Linked DNA regions of Homo sapiens: region 2 is linked to region 1. The links come from fine-mapping of genetic effects on gene expression. A gene starts in region 1. The other region holds a variant in brackets. All regions are shown on one strand. Distances are from middle to middle. Region 1 holds the start of LINC02082 (long intergenic non-protein coding RNA 2082). Region 2 overlaps LINC02082 (long intergenic non-protein coding RNA 2082).

What was found. PIP is the estimated chance that this variant, and not a neighbour inherited with it, causes the effect. A credible set is the group of variants that fine-mapping cannot tell apart.
Region 2: its variant is the best candidate, but not a certain one, in a credible set for the expression of LINC02082 in caudate (GTEx, PIP 0.74).

What each region holds. Positions count from the first base shown.
Region 1 is chr3:168,899,421-168,904,813 of GRCh38, reverse strand. It overlaps LINC02082 (long intergenic non-protein coding RNA 2082), which reads right to left and starts at 2,869. Exons shown (of 5, transcript NR_109989.1): 1 at 2,835-2,869; 2 at 1,274-1,448.
Region 2 is chr3:168,910,083-168,915,475 of GRCh38, reverse strand. LINC02082 (long intergenic non-protein coding RNA 2082) reads right to left here. Exons shown (of 5, transcript NR_109989.1): 4 at 4,662-4,804. Among named protein-coding and RNA genes, the nearest start is that of LINC02082, 11 kb to the right of the region's middle. The variant T/C (reference allele first, on the strand shown) is at 2,039.

The DNA of each region.
Region 1 (5,393 bases):
CAGGTATTATTCAGCTCAATACCCTCATTTTCAGATGGGAAAATTAAATCAGAAAGAGGATGTGAACTGCCCAAAGATAGACCACATGGTATTAGCAGAGCTAGGGTTAGCATTCATGTTTATCCATGCCCATTGCAATGTGGTTTCTTCTATAACATGTTGTTGAATTTCATGACAGTTGAACGAGTAGTGACGGAGAGTAGATAATCACACTCATTTTCACTAAGTCGGAAGAGTCACACCACCCGCAGTTGAAACCATCTGGGTAAACGTACATTGTGAATTTTTTTCTGCTCTGAGTGCCTCAAGTTTAGGCCTCCAGCACAATGTTCTCATCCACACTTTGCCAGAACCTTTGCTCTGTAATCTGCCAAAATACAATGTCTCCTACAATAGTGCGCTCTAAATAAAGTTGGTGCTTTCCAGTGTTGTACAAAATAACAAATTGTGGTTCAGGAAAACAAACATTAGAACAACTATCAATATTCATTTTATCCATGTTTATCAATTTAAGCATTTATCTACATTTTATAATATACTTATTAGTCAAGACGTGCAAGAATGTCATTTATAAATAAAAATGCATGTATAGTGGTATAGCAGGCCCCCCATCCATGGAGAATACATTCCAAGACTCCCAGTGGATGTCTGAAAGCTCAGATAGCATTGAACCCTATATACACTACGTTTTCCACTATACATGCATAACAATAATAAAGTTTAATTCATAAGTTAGGCATAATAAGGCATTCACAGTAACTAATAAAAAAATTACATCAATGTACTTAGAGTTCTGCCAATCTTACAAAAATCTTACTGTACTGTACCGCAGGTAAACCACAGGCAAAGGGGGACTACTGTACTGATTAAATTTTTCCTGATGAAACAAATTTTGGAGACTTTTGGGTGGTCCTCTTCCCTCTTTGCAGCTGTGCCTATTCTTATTCATGTGATCTGGCTTCTCCCAGAGCCCTGTATCCTCCGCCTTGCCTGCCTGAAAGCCTCAGAGGTGGTGGAGATTCTTCAGCTTCATGCCTAGAAACTCAAGACTTAGTAGATTTGGTGTCCACAAAGCCTTTCTTTAGGCTTAAAAAGTGGCTGGTAGGGGAGTTAAGTTTAGGTCTCAGAGGAGCTCTTTCACATTAATACTATTTCAATTACTTAAGGAGTTTAGGAGTTTTCATGTGATATTTCAGTAACAATATCAATCATATTTACATAACAATTTTATTGGATATTCAATTATAGTTCTAAACAACTTGAATTAGCTTACTGGAAAATAGCTTCTTCACAAGTTTCTGCTGTATTTTATCAACCAATGACAGTATTCTCAAAAGTAGATCCTTTTTTTATTTTTGAGACGGAGTCTTGCTCTGTTGGCAGGCTGGAGTGTAGGGGCGCAATGTTAGCTCACGGCAACCTCCGCCTCCAGGGTTCAAGCAATTCTCCTGCCTCAGCCTCCAGAATAGCTGGGACTACAGGCGCCCGCCACCATGCCCAGCTAATTTTTGTATTTTTAGTAGAGACGAGGTTTCACCATATTGGCCAGGTTGGTCTCGATCTCTTGACCTCATGATCTGCCCACCTCAATCTTCCAAAGTGCTGGGATTACAGGTGTGAGCCACTGCGTCCGGCCTAAAGTAGATCTTTATTGAGGGAAAAAAGGCAGTGAATCAACTTGCTTTTTTCACAATAATTTCCTGTCCACCCAAGGCCACAGATAGACCTTCTATCTGCAGAATTGCAAAGGCCACCATTTTTACAAGTACATTTTAGCTGATAATTGAGGCCATGTCTTATCTGGGGACAACCTGTAATAAAATTTTGTAAAAATAAAATAACACAACACTTTTCTCTTCCTTTCTTTCTTCCTTCCTTCCTTCCGTTCTTTCTCTCTTTCTCTTTTTTTTTTTAAAGGAGTCTTGCTCTGTCACCTAGGCTGGAATGCAGTGGTATGATCTTGGCTCACTGCAACCTCTGCCTCCCAGGTTCAAGCAATTCTCCTGCCTCAGCCTCCTGAGTAGCTGGTACTACAGGTGCATGCCACCACACCTGGCTAATTTTTGTATTCTTAGTAGAGACAGTGTTTCACCTTGTTGGTCAGGCTGGTCTCAAACTCCTGACCTCAGGTGATCCACCCACCTTGACCTCCCAAAGTGCTGGGATTACAGGCGTAAGCCATGGTGCTCAGCCGGAAAAACAACATTTTTCTCTACTTCAGATACAGTAACTGTATCTAGATAGCAAAAGCTTAATAAATGTTAAAATTAAAACAAAGAACTACTCACATGTTATCTGTAAGGTAGCAAATATATCACTTTCATTCATTCATTTTTTTCATTCACTCCATGAATATTGATTAATACTGTGTGTTTGGTATACTGGGACCTGCAGAGACCCTTGTGAAGAAGGAGCAGTCAATCCTGGATGACTAGGGATAAGATTTTATATATTTAGTTTCATAACTGATAAAGAAGAAAAATGAGCAGTTTGTTTTCAAGTTACTGAAATGGTAAAAGTATTTCAACTTACAGAGGTGGGTGACACAAACTAAAATGCACTATCAAGAGGAATTAAGACACAAGTGGCCTGGGGGTGGTGGCTCATGCCTGTAATCCCAGCACTTTGGGAGGCCAGGACAGGTGGATCACAAGGTCAAGAGATCAAGACCATCCTGGCCAACATGGTGAAACCCCATCTCTACTAAAAATACAAAAATTAGTTGGGCATGGTGGCGGGCGCCTGTAGTACCAGCTATTCCAGAGGCTGAGGCAGGAGAATCCAGAGGCTGAGGCAGGAGAATCCGGAAGCTGAGGCAGGAGAATCACTTGAACCCGGGAGGCGGAGGTTGCAGTGAGCCATGATGGTACCACTGCACTCCAGCCTGTCGACAGAGAGAGACTCCGTCTCAAAAAAAAAAAAAAAAAAAAAAAAAAGGACACAAGTGAACGAAACTAACCAGACAAGGAAAACGGAGCCTCTCTTTCTTCAGTGTCACGGAAAAGATAATTGAATGATGAGAAGTGCAACCGATGGGAGTGCAAAGCCCCTCCAAGGTGAGAATCAGACTTGCATTTTGTTGCTTTTGCTATGAAGAACGCAAACCCAATACTGCCAGCTAATATGACTTTTTAAGGAAAACTCAAAAGTTCATATTTTATGTGAAATTAACAAATCTTTGAAAGTTGACCACTAATTAAAATTGTTTTACAGCGCTGCTAAAAGCCAAAACTATGACAGCCAATTCAAACATATTTGTGGCTACATTTGGCCAACAGCCTGCCATTTATGACCTGAAGTTTATAGTATTTTTACATAATAATATTTTCCACATGGATTATCTCATTTAATACTAAAAAATACTCCTGTGATGTGGGTAGCAGTATTCTTATTTTACTCTTGAGAAAATTGAAGCTCTGAGTCTAAAGTCTTGCTCAAACTTAAACAGCCTATAAGGATAAGAACTAAGAGTCAAATCTAGACTATCTGACTTCCAATCAAATTATTTCTATTCCAACTAGCAGAAGCAAACTAGAGTAATTTTTAAAATTCCAGCTAGCAGAATAAACATTAGAGAAATTTTTATATTCCAGCAAGTAGGAAAAAAAGAGTTAGAGAGACTTTTTTTTTTTAACTTGCCCAAAGGCATTGGTTAATACATAGCAGAACAGGTACATGAATTCAATCTGCATGATACTTTCTTTATTGCTTTTATTTGAGCAACTAGCTGCACTGAATTCCAGTACCAAATGAAAAAAATTTTTTGATTTTGTTACTTAAATAACAGTTATAGTTGTACAATTAATGGTTGAATCATCATTATACGTGCAATAGACTACCTTTAATTAAATCCATTTTACCTTTTGCATATAGGGCAAATTAAGCAGAATCAATATCAGGTGTTATTAAAATAAACTTTTGCCTGTTTTCCTTCTACGCTCCTAAAACAACCCTGTCCTCATCAGCCAGGAGACCCATTCATCTACCAGCCTATATGTTGAAATGGATTGATGAAATCAATGAATCTGTGAAAATACAGGACTTCTACTAAGCCAAGATAAGATTTAAAACATAATTGGGGAAAAAAAGCATAATTGAAAAAGTAAGAAAAACTCAGAAATATTTACTTCTACAGGTCTAGGTCTTATGACAATATTGACACAGAATTGTGTAAATGACTTTATGGCCTTTTTAAACTTTATGTAATCACATGTTAATTATTTCAAACAATATACAAAAATATATTATGAAAATATTCCATTCCTGTGTTCCAGTATTCTCAGTTCTTTTCTTAAAAACATCATCAAAAACGTCATAATTACCAGCTATTTTCTGTATCACAGGCTTCACTTCTTTCAATAAGACTTACCTTGAGTACTCTAAATTTTCAACACACCCTGCGCTCTCCAGCCTTATTTCATGCTCTTTTTTCTCTTACCACAGATTTTACTCCCTCTAGAGTACACACACACACACACACACACACACACACACACACGTTACTCTTAAGAACATTGAAGCTCAGAGTCTCAAGTCTCGCTCAGACTTAAGCAGCCTGTAAGGATAAGAATATATATATGTTAGAGGGGTATAAATAACATATATAAATTTATTAATTCCCTTATTATTTATATTTATTATTATCTCTCTCACTAGAAAGCAAGTTGCATGAGCACTTGTATAGTCTGTATTTTAACCATACACTTTATATGCTTAAAACAGGCATTGTCATTCAATAAATATTTTTTGAATTAAGTGGATAAATGGCTGGATATATCCAGAAATAGCCTATGGCTAGTAAAGCATAATATGTCTATCTCCTGTATCCCTTAATGCTTTTCTACCCAAAGGTTAATATGTGTGTATGTGTGAGTGTGTCTATATATATATATAAAATATATAATATATGATATATAATATATTATATAATACATTATATATAATAAATAATATTGTAAATGTTGCTTTCTTTTACATAAAATTTCCCAAGATTTTTCCAAATTAGTAAATATAGATTAACAATGTACTAAATTAGTACATGTATATAAAATTAGTATAGTACATAAATTAGTACACAAAGTATTTAAATAATTTTTCCAAATTACTACATTAGTACATATATGCCTCATTCTTTTTTAACAGCTACATAGGAATTTATTGTGCTTTGCAAAATTTATTTTGGCACTCCAGATTGTTTAAAATAATTTGCTACTACAAACAATGCTGTAATGAACATCATTATGTAAGTCTTCATTCTTATGATATGATAATATAGTATAATATCACAATATAGTACCTATAGAGTAAATTCTTCAAATAAAATATGTGCTTTTTAAGTAGTAATGAACACTATCAAATTTCCCTACAAAGAGATTTTCCAATTTACTAAGGAT
Region 2 (5,393 bases), 11 kb before region 1:
ATTTAATACATTTTCTTATATCTTTTTTAAGTGGAGGCATTAATATTAAAACATTTTATATATTTTAAGACTTCTGTTGGAAGAAAAACACCTAATTTGTTAATATATGTTATTTGAATTAATATTCTTCAAAATTAGAGCTGTTAGCACACAAACATTAAAATGAAGAATTATTAAATGGTGTTTCATGTAATCCTGATATAAGATTTAGAGATAAAACTCTGTAAATATTTGGAAGAACATAAAAGAGGCATCTATCACTTTTAAATGCATATCTTAGACTTTATTTATATTTAAGTTTTTTTATTTAGAAAAAGTAAAATATAAGCAGGAAAAGTGGAAAATAGTCTTCACATAATTAGCTAAAAGAGACAAAGCTTTGGAATGTCTTTTAAATCTATTTTAAAAGCTCAGCTACTTTTTTGTTTTTTTTCTATTACAGACCTAAGAAAAGTTATTTCAACTGAATTGCATACATAACTCCTAGAGTGTAGACAGTTGCTATTATTTGTTCACTTCATCAAATGCTCTTTTAAATTCTTGCTACATCTGTATTACCAGGTCCTAGAGAAACCAAGGTGAAAGAGGCCCAGGAGAGGCCAAACCCTCTTTGCTATTTCTAACAAAGGAAATGCCATTCTTGCCACTAACTCTTGGAATGATTTCCAAGTTCTCTGAAAGTAATTTAACCTGTGTCAAGTAGCTGTCTCATCTGGAAAACTCAATAAACGAATGTAGAAGTTAGAAAGAGTAGGGGAAAGTTAGGTGTCATAGTGAAATAGTTTATCCCAGGCATGTTGAATTGAGACTCCAAATTAGCCAGCATACTTCCACACATCTGCTCACTTTTCTTTAAACTTGAGCTATATTATTGCAGAAAAGCATAATAATCCCCACTCTGATCTTGTATTTCAAATGAAAGAGGCTAAAACATCATAGCACATGCGCCTTTCTAGATCGGTTAAATATTATGAGTGGATACATTTCCTTTGGAGATCAGCATTTTTACATTTAAAGGACAGATTAAACAGGGAGAAAAAGTAGAGGAGTAATATATAAAATATTTGTATCCAATGACAAGGATTCCAATTTTACATTAAACTTTAGCTTAAAGAGGACATGCCTATTAGATTATACTTCACTTAATAGTTGGATTCTTTAACATTTTGTGCAAATTATTTCTCGGCAGCCAAATCATACTTCACTGTACCTGAATAGTGGTTTACATGTAAAAACCTCAGGTAAATGCTTATGTACTGCCAAAGTGAACAGCAACCTTTATTTATTTGTTTAAAAAAGGTGAGGTCTTTGTACACTGTTTTCTTAATTTGAAGCAGTTTCAATGTGGCAGTTACAAAAAATAAAATTTTAAATTCTATTATATAAATTTTCAAGGAAACTATATTTCATAATTTTCCAGCTGTAGAATTAAGATTAATGTTTATTATATGTTGGTTTATGCATGAAATATTGCATATAATAATATTCAGGATATCTGCTAGTGTTCTTAAGCAGAACTGAGGTATTTTTAGGAGAGATCACTCTGCATTGCTTATCAAGATTTTTCAAGATAACCAAAAGTACAATGGAAATATTCTAGATTTTAAACATTTTCTCATTTTTATTTTTTAATATGAAAGACAACTTATAAAAATTTTTATACAGAAAAGGGGCTACAGTAAATTGCACTTGTTCATGCTGACTGGTATAAGAATGAAAATTCAATTTGTCTAAAGGGTCCTGGGATGGCACAAATACAGGTTCATGCTCTGACTTTGCTTTCCCGGTCCTACAATTTGTTTTAGTGTTGGGTGGAAAGGGGATGAAAGGAGATAATATATGAAACATCTGCCATTTGCCAAGAAACTTGTTTAACATTTTACATATGGTTTCTCACTTATAAAAAGTTAAGTAATATAAAATCAAAAAGAATAGTCAAAATAAATCCCTTATTTTTATTCCTATCAAATCTAGATTTTTCTCATCTGCCTGAATAGAAATACGGTCTCTACTGAGGAAGAAAAGCCTGATTTCTTTC[T/C]CTTTTCCCTGTTTGTAGCCATAATTTTTTAACAGTCATGAAATAAAGAAAATCCAGAGGGGGCTGGCAGCCCAAGAGAGAATGCTGCTTTTATTTACTTTATTCTCTTTGAAGGTTAGATGGTGATAGTTGAGAGAAACTACAACAATAGCAGGTAAAGAAAATGGGCAAACGTTCAGAATAAAGAATAGTTTTCAGCTGATTTGAAATAACAGATTATTAATGACTGATTTAAATGGTTAAAATGCACTGAAATGTAAATCTTTAATTCCAAATACTGGAGAAAAAAGGTAATTTATTTTATCTCATTTAAGACTAAACTAAATTAATAATCTCTTGGAGAAGCCAGGAGTGGTGGCTCACATGTGTAATCTCAGTGCTTTGGAAGGTTGAGGCAGGAGGATAATTTGAGGCCTGGAGTTCAAGGCCAGCCTGGGTGACATAGTGAGACCTTCGTTTCTACAAATTTTTTAAAATCAGATGGGCATGGTAGTGCATGTCTGTAGTTCCAGCTACTTGAGGGGGCTGAGGTGGGAGGATTCCTTGTGCCCAAGAGTCTGAGGTTGCAGTGAGCTAGGATCATGCCACTGCACCCAAGTCTGGGCAACAAAGGGAGACTCTATCCCTAAGAAAATAAAAAGTATACGCCGGGCGCGGTGGCTCACACCTGTAATCCCAGCACTTTGGGAGGCCGAGGCGGGTGGATCACGAGGTCAGGAGACTGAGCCCATCCTGGCTAACAAGGTGAAACCCCATCTCTACTAAAAATACAAAAAATTAGGCGAACATGGTGGCACGTGCCTGTAGTCCCAGCTACTTGGGAGGCTGAGGCAGGAGAATGGCGTTAACCGGGGAGGCGGAGCTCGCAGTGAGCCGAGATCCCGAGATCCCGCCACTGCACTCCAGCCTGGGCGACAGAGTGAGCTTCCGTCTCAAAAAAAAAAAATAAAATAAAATAAATAAAAAATAAAATAAAAAGTACAACATTTTTTGGAAAGTGATCTCATTAACTCCCTTATATCATTTAATAACATTAAGCTTGACATGGCTGGTCATTATAGGTAGCTATATCTCTGCTCTGTTAAAAGTGCTGAGATTTAGAAAGATAATCATTAAGATGAGAAACTGTACTGAATTGATAAAAGTATTTTTATAAATCCTTCAGTCAATTCTATCCTAAATCTGTTTTGATTTAAAAGCCACTCATACATCTTGTATAAATCAAATATTCAGTCATATAATTGTAATATTCTCTATTTTTATCCCAATAAAGCATGGGTAACATGAGAAACAACATTTCCAATCAAGAAAGTTTTGTTTGCTGATGTGAATTAACCAGTGGTCTGAAAAATTTAAGTGCTTATAAACTACTTGAGAGCAAAAATAAAATAGTATTTATTGCTGTATCTTTCTTGGCTTATCACAGTACTCATCTTAGGTTCATAAATGGCTATATAGTTGTCCTAAATGATGAACAATTTGAATCAAGATTACCACTGTGAATTAAAAGACTGATTACAAGTAGGTCCTGATTTATAGGAAATTTGTGTCCCCCAGAGTAGGCTAAGCCCTGGCCTCGGTCACTGCTACCCAGTTTTTTCCTTTCTGCTGGCCAGTGACGGAGAAAACACACTAAACATTTTGATGTTTCACTATGAAAGTGCACGTCATTAGGTGGCTAAAGTCTTTATAGTCTCCCACACCAAAGTCATGTTTGAAAAACAATACATTAGCAATCCAGAGCAGAGTTTGTTATGAAGAAGGATACTGAGAATAAATAGATGAAATTCTAGATATTTCTAAAGAGGATCCAGCTATTTCATGGCCACTGAAGTCTTCAGTGAATAGGTGTGAATATTTCAGTGTAGTCCAACCTGAACTGAAAAGCAGTTCTTCCATCCAAATTTAAATACCTTCTGTGCATATAAAAAAGGTCCACTTATTAGTCCAAACATTACTAAGATTGGGATCCTGAAATAACATTCTCTTATTATTGGCTATATTCTTCAGCAAAAAAACCACTGGGAAGGCTAGGCTAGAGAATGAGACTTGTGCTTGGAGATGACAAAGTTGAGACATCCTGTTATTTACCCCACAACAGGTCGGGATGGGCTGAAGATGGCTGAGTAAGTACATTTCTCTGTCAAAGTTAAAATGATAAACCGTGGATGAAAGTCTGCAAAATTCTATTCACCAATTGAAAAGCTGTTAGTATTTGGATATTGAGGATCATCTGAACCACTTTCCTCACAGGTTGGGTCCACTGTCTTAAAAAGGCAGGTGCAGCTCCCATTGAGAGGGCTGCAGTGAGCTATGTAACCACACTGACACTGGAGAGCACAGTTTGGTCCATACAGGCCTGGCCTGCATTCTATGAGGGAGAAAATTAAAGTAAAAGCAATTCAGATATGCTTTTCAAACACACAGTGTTCTTACTATTACTTCTTGGCATTCAATAAGATAATTATACGCTTGTGAAATATTCTTTTTTACCATGGGATATCTTCCCATGCTAGAATGCTATGTGATAAAAGTAAGAACATCAATGGAAAACAGGAGAAGGGTGGGAGTGTCAAGGAAGTTAGTGACAACACTGAAAAGAGAAGTCAGGACAGCAACTTACATTTTTAAGGTGCCTTCTCAGAATTAGAGACTTCAGTAGAGCTTTAGTGGTTGCATCGTGAAGGACACAGGGAAAGTTGGATAGTTGTCTTGAGGTCAGAAAAAGGCAACATCCATGCTGAACGCCCAATACAGGAGACTAACCTTTAGGATGAAAACACAATTATTTGTGCTTATGTTATTGAAAATGAAATGACTTTAATTTCAACTGTTTCATTTCTTAAAATATGTCAGAAGGTCCATAGATCCCCTGATCTATGTCCTACAGGACTCTATCTTTAAATTGAATTACACTGTGCTTGCAACAGAAAGAGAAATGATGGAAGATTATAGAAAGTGTTAGCTTAACCAAATGTTGACCAAAAAGGCCCGGCCTGGGTGTTTGCTCTTAGCCTGATTTCCAGTAGAGAATTAACAAGTTCTGTTTCTGAAGAATTATGAGGATAAGGAGAAAGCCCAGCCCAGCTCACGGAAACAGAAAATAGATTCATATTTCCTACTCGGTCAGGCAGGACTGGGAAGAAACTCAGTTTATCAATGTTTAAGGATCAGAGAAACTCAACTGTGCAATCATAACAGTCACCTACCCTTGTGGAGTTTACAAAGTGGGTCTCTAATACAGTATTTCTGTTGGTTCTAACACCTGTGAGGTGGGCAAGGCAGTGAGTTAGGCTCTTGCATTCCACAGAGAAATAAACCTTGGTTTGGTATGGCTTAAAAGATCTTCTCAATT